Regions from separate parts of the Homo sapiens genome. Here all the other regions are linked to region 3. Evidence: fine-mapped expression QTL. A gene starts in region 3. Each other region holds a variant in brackets. All regions are shown on one strand. Distances are from middle to middle.

What was found. PIP is the estimated chance that this variant, and not a neighbour inherited with it, causes the effect.
Region 1: its variant is fine-mapped to the expression of SYN2 in whole blood (TOPMed, PIP above 0.99).
Region 2: its variant is fine-mapped to the expression of SYN2 in whole blood (TOPMed, PIP 0.99).

What each region holds. Positions count from the first base shown.
Region 1 is chr3:12,260,216-12,262,976 of GRCh38, reverse strand. No RefSeq gene overlaps it. Among named protein-coding and RNA genes, the nearest start is that of PPARG, 27 kb to the left of the region's middle. The variant G/A (reference allele first, on the strand shown) is at 1,525.
Region 2 is chr3:12,173,495-12,176,255 of GRCh38, reverse strand. The region is part of intron 10 of SYN2 (synapsin II); the gene reads right to left. Among named protein-coding and RNA genes, the nearest start is that of TIMP4, 16 kb to the right of the region's middle. RefSeq lists a silencer at 159-238. The variant AT/T (reference allele first, on the strand shown) is at 1,238.
Region 3 is chr3:12,002,888-12,005,648 of GRCh38, reverse strand. SYN2 (synapsin II) reads right to left here and starts at 1,261. Exons shown (of 13, transcript NM_133625.6): 1 at 721-1,261. The coding sequence starts at 1,097. RefSeq lists an enhancer at 62-562.

The DNA.
Region 1 (2,761 bases), 260 kb before region 3:
TGTCTCATGCCTCCCTGCATCTCCACATCTGCTGTTCTTCTCTGCTTCTCTTTCATTCACTAACATTTTCTCCTTTTTTCTCACTGAAACCTCGAAACTATAATAGAAAACATTTTTATTCTTGAATTTAAATAGAAAAGGTGATTTGATAAATTAATTTCTTTAAAGATATCATTGTTGCAACTTCTAATTTTTTTTCCAACAAGTTGGTGACCTTTGACGGAAACACAGCAGCATCACTGCAGCTTACAGAATTACTGCTTAGCAAATGCATGAGACATTCAGAGGGACTTCTGATCAGTTTTCTAAGTTTCTTATGATTATCTTTTTTTTTTTGAGGCAAGGTCTCACTCTGTCACCCAAGCTGGAGTGCAGTGGCTCACTGCAGCCTCTGCCTCCCGGGTTCAGGTGATCCTCCCACCTCAGCTTCCCAAGTAGCTGGGACTTCAGGTATGTGCCACCACACACGGCTAATTTTTGTATTTTATTTATTTATTTATTTTGTATTTTTTGTAGAGATGAGGTTTCACCATGTTGCCCAGGCTGGTCGTGAACTCCTGGACTTAAGCCATCCGCCCTCCTTGGCGTCTCAAAGTGCTGGGATTACAGGTGTGAGCCACCACGCCCTGCCTCATGATTATCTTAGAAAGAAAACATAATAAACATTGAAATGCATAATGATCATTTGTATTTTTGTTTGAGACGGAGTCTCACTCTGTCCCAGGCTAGAGTGCAGTGGCACAATCTCGGCTCACTGCAGCCTCTGCCTCCTGGGTTCAAGTGATTCTCGTAACTCAGGTTCCTCAGTAGCTGGGATTACAGCTGCCCACCACCATGCCCAGCTAATTTTTGTATTTTTAGTAGAGATGGGGTTTTGCCATGCTGGCCAGGTTGGCCTCGAACTCCTGACCTCAAATGATCTGCCTGCCTCGGCCTCCCAAAGTGTTGGGATTATAGGCCTGAGCCACCGCACGACACCTGAAATGCATAATGCTCTTTCAGCAGGGTTGCCAACTTTAGCAAATAAAAATACAGGATGCCTAGTTAAATTTGAATTTTGGATAAACAAATCATTGTTTAGTGTACATCCCATGCCATATTTGAGACAAATTTATACTAAAAAAAGTACTTGCTGTTTATCTGCAATTCAAATTTAACCAGGCACTGTGTATTTTGTAATTGACTATATTCATAATATTTGTGTGTGTATATATACATGTGCGATATTTGTGAGCTGGGTGTTTTTTTTTTTTTTTTTTTGAGACGGAGTCTAGCTGTGTCACCCAGGCTGGAGGGCAGTGGCATGATCTCGGCTCACTGCAAGCTCCGCCTCGCAGGTTCACGCCATTCTCCTGCCTCAGCCTCCCGAGTAGCTGGGACTACAGGCTCCCGCCACCACGCCCGGCTAATTTTTTTGTATTTTTAGTAGAGACGGCGTTTCACCGTGTTAACCAGGATGGTCTCGATCTCCTGACCTCGTGATCTGCCCGCCTCGGCCTCCCAAAGTGCTGGGATTATAGGCGT[G/A]AGCCACCGTGCCCGGCCGAGCTGGGTGTTTTTAATTTGGGGACTAACTATTTACAGTTTCCTTGCTATTTCTCCTCCCTTATGCAGTATATAAAGTATTCCCTTTACATTTTAGCCCTTGGGTGTACATACTTTATTCCACTTCCTTCCAACTTTATCTTAAAAGTAGATGGCTTAAGAGAAAAAGGTACCTATGTATTCAATTCTCTATCACCTCCCTCTGAAAAAAGTGTTTACTTAATAAACATCAGGCAAGGGCAGCACTTCTGAACCTCTTTTAAAACAGTCAGCTTTATGGTTGCACTAAGTAGATTTTTTCTTAACGTCTCTCATTTTAAAACAAAATGTCTGAAATGATGAATAACTATAGGAATGGTAGCTAACATGTATTGAGCGCTTACTGTCAGGCACTGTTCAACATTATATAATGGCTTAAATCACTTACACCCCACAAACCACTGATGTGGGTACCATTAATACCCCTACTTCGGAGACGAGGAAAGAGACACAAAGAAGTTAGGCAAATCCCAGTTTCCCGTTATTAATATTTCACATTCGTATGATACGTTTGCCACAATTAATGGGCCCATGTTGTCATAGATTATTATTAGAGCCCATGTTTCATTCAGATGTCCCCAGTATTTCCCTCGCGTCCTGTTTCTGTCCCAGGATCCCATCCAGGGTGCCGCGTTTCACTTAGCCATCCTGTCGCCTTGGACTCCTCTTGGTTGTGAGTTTCTTAGGCTTTCTTGGTTCTTGACGACCTTGACAGTTTTGCAGAGGACTGGTTGGGTATGTTATAGAAAGTCCTTCAGTTGGGGTTTGTCTGGTGTCTCTCACGGTTCGACTGGGGTTGTGGGTTTGCGGGAGGGAGACCACAGAGTTAAGCACTGTCCTCATCACATCATGTCAACCTTGACCACCTGGCTGAGGGGGTGTTTGTCAGCTTTCTCCATGATAAAGTTATTATTATTTTCCCCCCCTTTCCATACTGTACTCTTTGAAAGGAAGTGATATTCCTAACCCACACCTGAGTGAGGAATTATGATTGAGCTATTTTTTAAACATCAGCTTTACTGAGACACAATGCACATGTTATATAATGCACCTGTTTAAAGTGTGCAATTCTGTGGCTTTCAGTATATTCAGAACTGTGCAAGCACCACCAGGATCTATTTTAAAACATTTTCATCACCCCAAAAAGAAACCCCATACCCATTAACAGTCATTCCCCTTT
Region 2 (2,761 bases), 170 kb before region 3:
CTGTCCCCCTGAAGTTCTCTCCCTGTTTCCTGGGAGTCTGAGGAGCAGCCCACACCTCATCAGAGCCCTAGGATGCAAGGCCCAGCTCAGATCCTAGACAAGAGACCCCTAAAGTCAGTGAATGTGTAGGAGGGGTGGTGGGAAGGCAGTGGTACAGGGAAGAGACTCTGCAGGTATAGAGCCTGGAGGCTTTGGCCATGAGTGACCACCAGGTGTCACTGCCACCTCGAGAACAGTCTCCCTAAAGCATTTCAGAGTCCATGTACAGAGGGTCAGTTGCTGCTGCTGACCCTCACAGCAGCCCGCAAGCTGGCAGTCTGTCCAGGCCTGAGGCCAAGCTGTCATCAACCAGATCAGGCTTTACCACTCACCTCCCTGCTCTTGGTGACATGGCCAGTGCTTCTTATGCCCCTTCCTCTATTCCTTTGAAATGTGTACTGCAGCTGGCTTGGGCCCACCACCATGTCTTTGCTCTTTGCGTTCTATAATTAATCCATCCCAGGCTAGAGGTAAGGTGTGCCCTCTAATCACCATCCTCACCCCAAGCCCCAGCTCCCTGTCCCCATTTTAGGTGTTCCTCTAGAATCAAATAAATGAAAGCACTCATGGTGGAGCTAAGGACAACGATAGAGAAGGAGAAACAGAGAAGGGTAGACAAGTGGCTAGCCACAGGTCTGTCCTGGTCTTGGTCTAGAATTCTGGGCAGGAGCAGCTCCTAGGGCTTATGACTCAGACCAGAAGCTCTTTCAGCCTGAGCTTCCACAGCCACAGAAGAAAGAGGCCAGCAAGAGGTGCCTGTGAGGAATGGTGACAATGCCTGTGAGCAAGTCAGTGACAACACCTAAGGGCTGAGCTGGCTATGCAAAGTCCTGGCTTGGATGCAGGTAATGTTCCTCGGTTCACATCCTTTCCACTTGCACACTGCCAAGATCATCCAAAGGATCCTGACATCAATCCAATAGGCTGATAGGGCTATTAAAGATGCCTCTTCCAAATGGTGAACTCACTCAACAAATATGTATTACAATGGCACATCAAAGGGAGTGGGGCAGGAGTGGTTTGCTTGGTGGGAAGAGTATTTTATCAATGTCATTTGTATAGAATTGCTATCATATGTTGATAATAAAAAGCAGGCCAACTTAGTTTTGCTATTTTAAAAATTTTCTATAGCCAACTGATTGCACCTGGGCAAACCACTCTCACCTGTCTCCCCTTGGTACACCCTTGATGTATTTAA[AT/T]GGCTACTAGGTGCTAGATACAGTGGCCCTAGAGATATAGCCATAAACAAGTCTGTACTCTTGAGAACCTTACATTTTAGTAGAACAGACAATTAAATAGACAAGAATAATCTCAACTGATAGTGAGTGCTATGCAGAAAATTAAAGAAGGGAGAGGTGGTAGCCAGTGAGTAGGTGGCAGCTTTGGATTGGATAGTTGAGGAAGTATCAGTTATACTGTTAAGGAAAAGTCAGTTATGGCTGGGCGCGGTGGCTCATGCCTGTAATCCCAACATTTTGGGAGGCCAAGGTGGGCGGATCATGAGGTCAGGAGATCGAGACCATCTTGGCCAACATGGTGAAATCCCGTCTCTACTAAAATACAAAAAATTAGCCGGGCGTGGTGGCGCGTGCCTGTAATCCCAGCTATTCGGGAAGCTGAGGCAGGGGAATCGCTTGAACCCGGGAGGCGGTGGTGGCAGTGAGCTGAGATGCACCACCACACTCCAGCCTGGTGACAGAGCAAGACTCTGTCTCAAAAAAAATGCAAAACTAAGAAGAAAGAGCATTTCAGAGAGAGAGCACAGCCTAATACAAAGGCCCTTACCAGTGTGGCTAGGGCACAGTGAGCAACAGTTAGGATAGTACAAGGGAAAGAGGCAGGTAGGGGCCTACATAAATTGCTAGGGAAAAACAATGTTGGGGGGACAGGACTAAGGGGAAAAACTAGAGTTCTGCTTTGGCTGTGTTATATTTAGGGTGCCTTTAAGATATGCAAAGTAAGGATGTCAAGCAAGAGTTAGAAATGTGAGTCTGGAGTTTGAAGGGGTGGTCAGGGCAGGAGATAGATACAGGCTGGCCAAGACCACCAACAAATGTACGTTGACCAAGTTCTGGGGCACTGATGTTTAGACACTCAGCAGAAGTGGAAGAATCAGCAAAGGAGGCCAAGAAGGGGAAGCCAATGATGTAGAATGAAAACCAAGCGATGGGCGGGGGGGCCTCAGGGGCCTAGAAAATAGTGTTTAGAGGAGGGAGTAGTCAGCTGTGTCAAATGCTACTGAAAAGTCTGTAAGATAAGAACAAAAGTGACCACTGGACTCAGTGACATGGAGATGACTTTTTCTTTTTGAGACACAGTCCTGCTCTGTCACCCAGGTGCACTGGTACGATCTCGGCTCACTGCAACCTCTGCTTCCCGGGTTCAGGTGATTCTCCTGCCTCGGCCTCCCAAGTAGCTGGGATTACAGACACCTGCCACCATGCCCAGCTAATTTTTGTATTTTTAGTAGAGACGGGGTTTCACCATATTGGCCAGGCTGGTCTCGAACTCCTGACCTCGTGATCTACCTGCCTCGGCCTCCTAAAGTGCTGGGATTACAGGCGTGAGTCACTGCGTCTGGCCTCATGGAGGTGACTTTGACAAGGGCCATTTCAGTGGGATGGTTGGAGCGGGATGCTGACTAGAGAGGATAGGAGAGAAAATGTGGTAAAAGGGAGACGGTGGCTAAAACAACTTTCCAATAATCTTTTGGAAAAAGAGA
Region 3 (2,761 bases):
CATTCACTTCCACGCCCCGCCCCCCACCACGCACATTTCAGAAAAACAAGCAATCAAAAAAAAAAAAAAAAAATTCCACACGTCCCCTCCCTGCTGCACAAAATACAACAATTTTATTATTCATAAAGAGACTTCAGCCATGCTCCGGGGAACAAGCCCGTGTACACCTGGGCCACTACATGTGTGATTTCATCAACCTGATGTCAATACTTGATATCAGCCTTCATGGGTCCTGGTTAAAAAAAACCCACCACCACCTTCTCCCTCCAAAATACCAATTTCCATTCCAAATTCACTCCGTGCTTCATGAAGTTAAACCTTTTTTACTGGCCCTAAATGTTCCTTCGGCCTCCTGGGACTATTTCACTTCAGATTTTATGTGTCTAAGCTAACAAGTGTGTCCCCTCCTCTACCCCCAAAAAAACTATTTCCTAAGGGCCTTTCCTGTTGCATAAAGTAGCTCCTTCTTGTATGGGACCTGGGGGACCTGGGGCAATTGAGGGGTATTTTAGCTTTGGGTTCGCCTTTCCGGGCTGATGGATGCCCTCCCTCACCCCGCAAACGCGCGCGCGCTCAGCCCGCACCTCCTCCCAGCGGGACCTCGGGGACCCTCCTTTTTATTGGTCTGAAACGTTTCCTCGGCGACCTGGGACCGTCCTCTCCTGGCCTGCGGCTGCCGGCGGACCCCGACCCCCGAGGGCGGCGGCGCCCGGCACCTACCAGTCGGCGTGCGGCTCGTCGACCACCAGCAGCACCTTGGCCTTCCTGGCGGCTGCGGGCGCGGGAGCGGGCGCGTCCACCAGGCCAGCCGAGGCGGCCGTCTGCTTCACGGCTTGGGACAGCGAGCTGAAGAAGCTGCTGCCCACCGACGGCGTCGGCGCGGGCTGCGGCGCGGGCGCCGAGGCGGGCGGCGGCCTCCGCTCCGGGCCCGGCGAGGCGGTCGGGGGCGCCGCCGAGGCCGAGGCGGCGCCCGGACCGGGGGGCGGCGGCGGCGGCGGCTGCTGGGGCTCGGGCCGCTGCAGGTCGGTCATGTAGCCGTTGGGCAGGTTGGCGATGAAGCTGCTGTCCGACAGCCGGCGCCGCAGGAAGTTCATCATCTGGCTTAAAGGGCTGGGGGCGCGCGGGGCTACGGGGTCTGGTGGCGCGGAGGGAGAGCGAGGGCGGAAGGCGAGATTGAGGCGACTGAGGCGGCTGAGGCGGCGGCTTAGCCAGCAGAGACTCAGGCCCCGGCACCAGACCCCGCAGACAGCAGCGGCGGTCTGGGCCAGGCAACCCGCGCGGCGCGAGGCTCGCGGAGAGGGAGCGGGCGGGGCAGGGGCGGGGCCAGAGATAGCCCCCGCCCCGCGCCGCAGAGGCGGCCCCGCCCCGCTCACGGAGGGCACCTAGCCGCGCGTCTGGCGACTCTCGGGGCTTGCAGGAGGGGGCGACCCAGGCCTCCAGCAACCTGAGCGTGACTATGCGGGGAGGGCGTGGGAGCCAGGCCTTCTCCCCAGGGGAAGGAAAAGGAACCAGAGGCCCCACCATCTTTTTGGTTGGAGAGAAAAAGAGCCGTGTCCCAGCTGAAATGGAGGCGAAGGAAACCGACCCCACTCCTTTTGGAAGGATAAGAGGTGTCAGCCTCCCTATGCGGAGGTGAGAACGAAAGGAGTCATCCCAATCACGCGCGCACACACGCACACAAGCACGAACACCCTGTAGTGAGGAGGAAAAGAACCACCTCCTTTCCCAACGCTGGGGAGAAAGATGTCATCTCCCCAGCCCCCAGAAGAGGGGGAAGGGAATAATCCGCTGTTACTAACACACACACACACACACGCGCGCGCGCGCGCGCACACACACACACACACACACACACACACACACACACACCCTATGGTGAGACAAAAAAGAAATACCTCTTCTAGGGAGGAAGGCAGCCTCCTTACTCCAAGGCGAGGGAGAGGAAAGGGGAGAAACAGATCCTCTCTACTCTGTCATGGAAGGAGGGGTGGGGTGTGTTTTCACTCCTGCACTTCTAGGGACAACAACAGTATGTACTTCTCTCCCCCTCCTCACTGACCAGTGAGAGAAAACCAAGAGAAGACTGGAGACATGGTCTCCACCCCAAGAGGGATATCTAAGGATCCCCCAACCCCACCGTGTTTCTTTCCTAGCATGCATTGATGCATCCAGTGCTATACCAAGAAGGACATCTCTTCAAGATCTTTCTACTTGTTTTTTCCATTTTATTCGTTGCCTTGACCTCTGTGAAGACATTTCTGATGGCCACCTTCCCATGTGCACTCTCTAAATCTTGCGTGACTCTTGGACCTTTAGTTTTCATCTCTCATTAGATATACTTTCCCTTGTGTTGTAATGGAGCAGGACACAGCAGATAGGCTTTACAGCAGACTACCCCGGGTGATATGTGACCCTGGATCAATAACCCCTGTGAGCCTCTCTCCTTAGCTGATAAAAAGGAATAAGTAACCCTTTCCAGAGTTGTTACATGGAGTAAATGAGATCATGTATGTAAAGCATCTGGTACACAGCAGTAGGTATTCCAGTAGTGATGCCTGAATTCTTTTTTCAATTGGTTCTCAGTAAGTATGTACTGGGCTGAATGGAGTCAGGGAGTGGCTTGTCACTAATGTTGGTGGGCAGTTCTTGCTTCCTGTATCCCAGCTGGCACTCAACTCAGGGCCTAGAGATACACAATCCAGCTCTGAGCCGGTGCTATCAGAGAAGTCTCCAGTCAACTATAATAACACAGTGGTCTTCC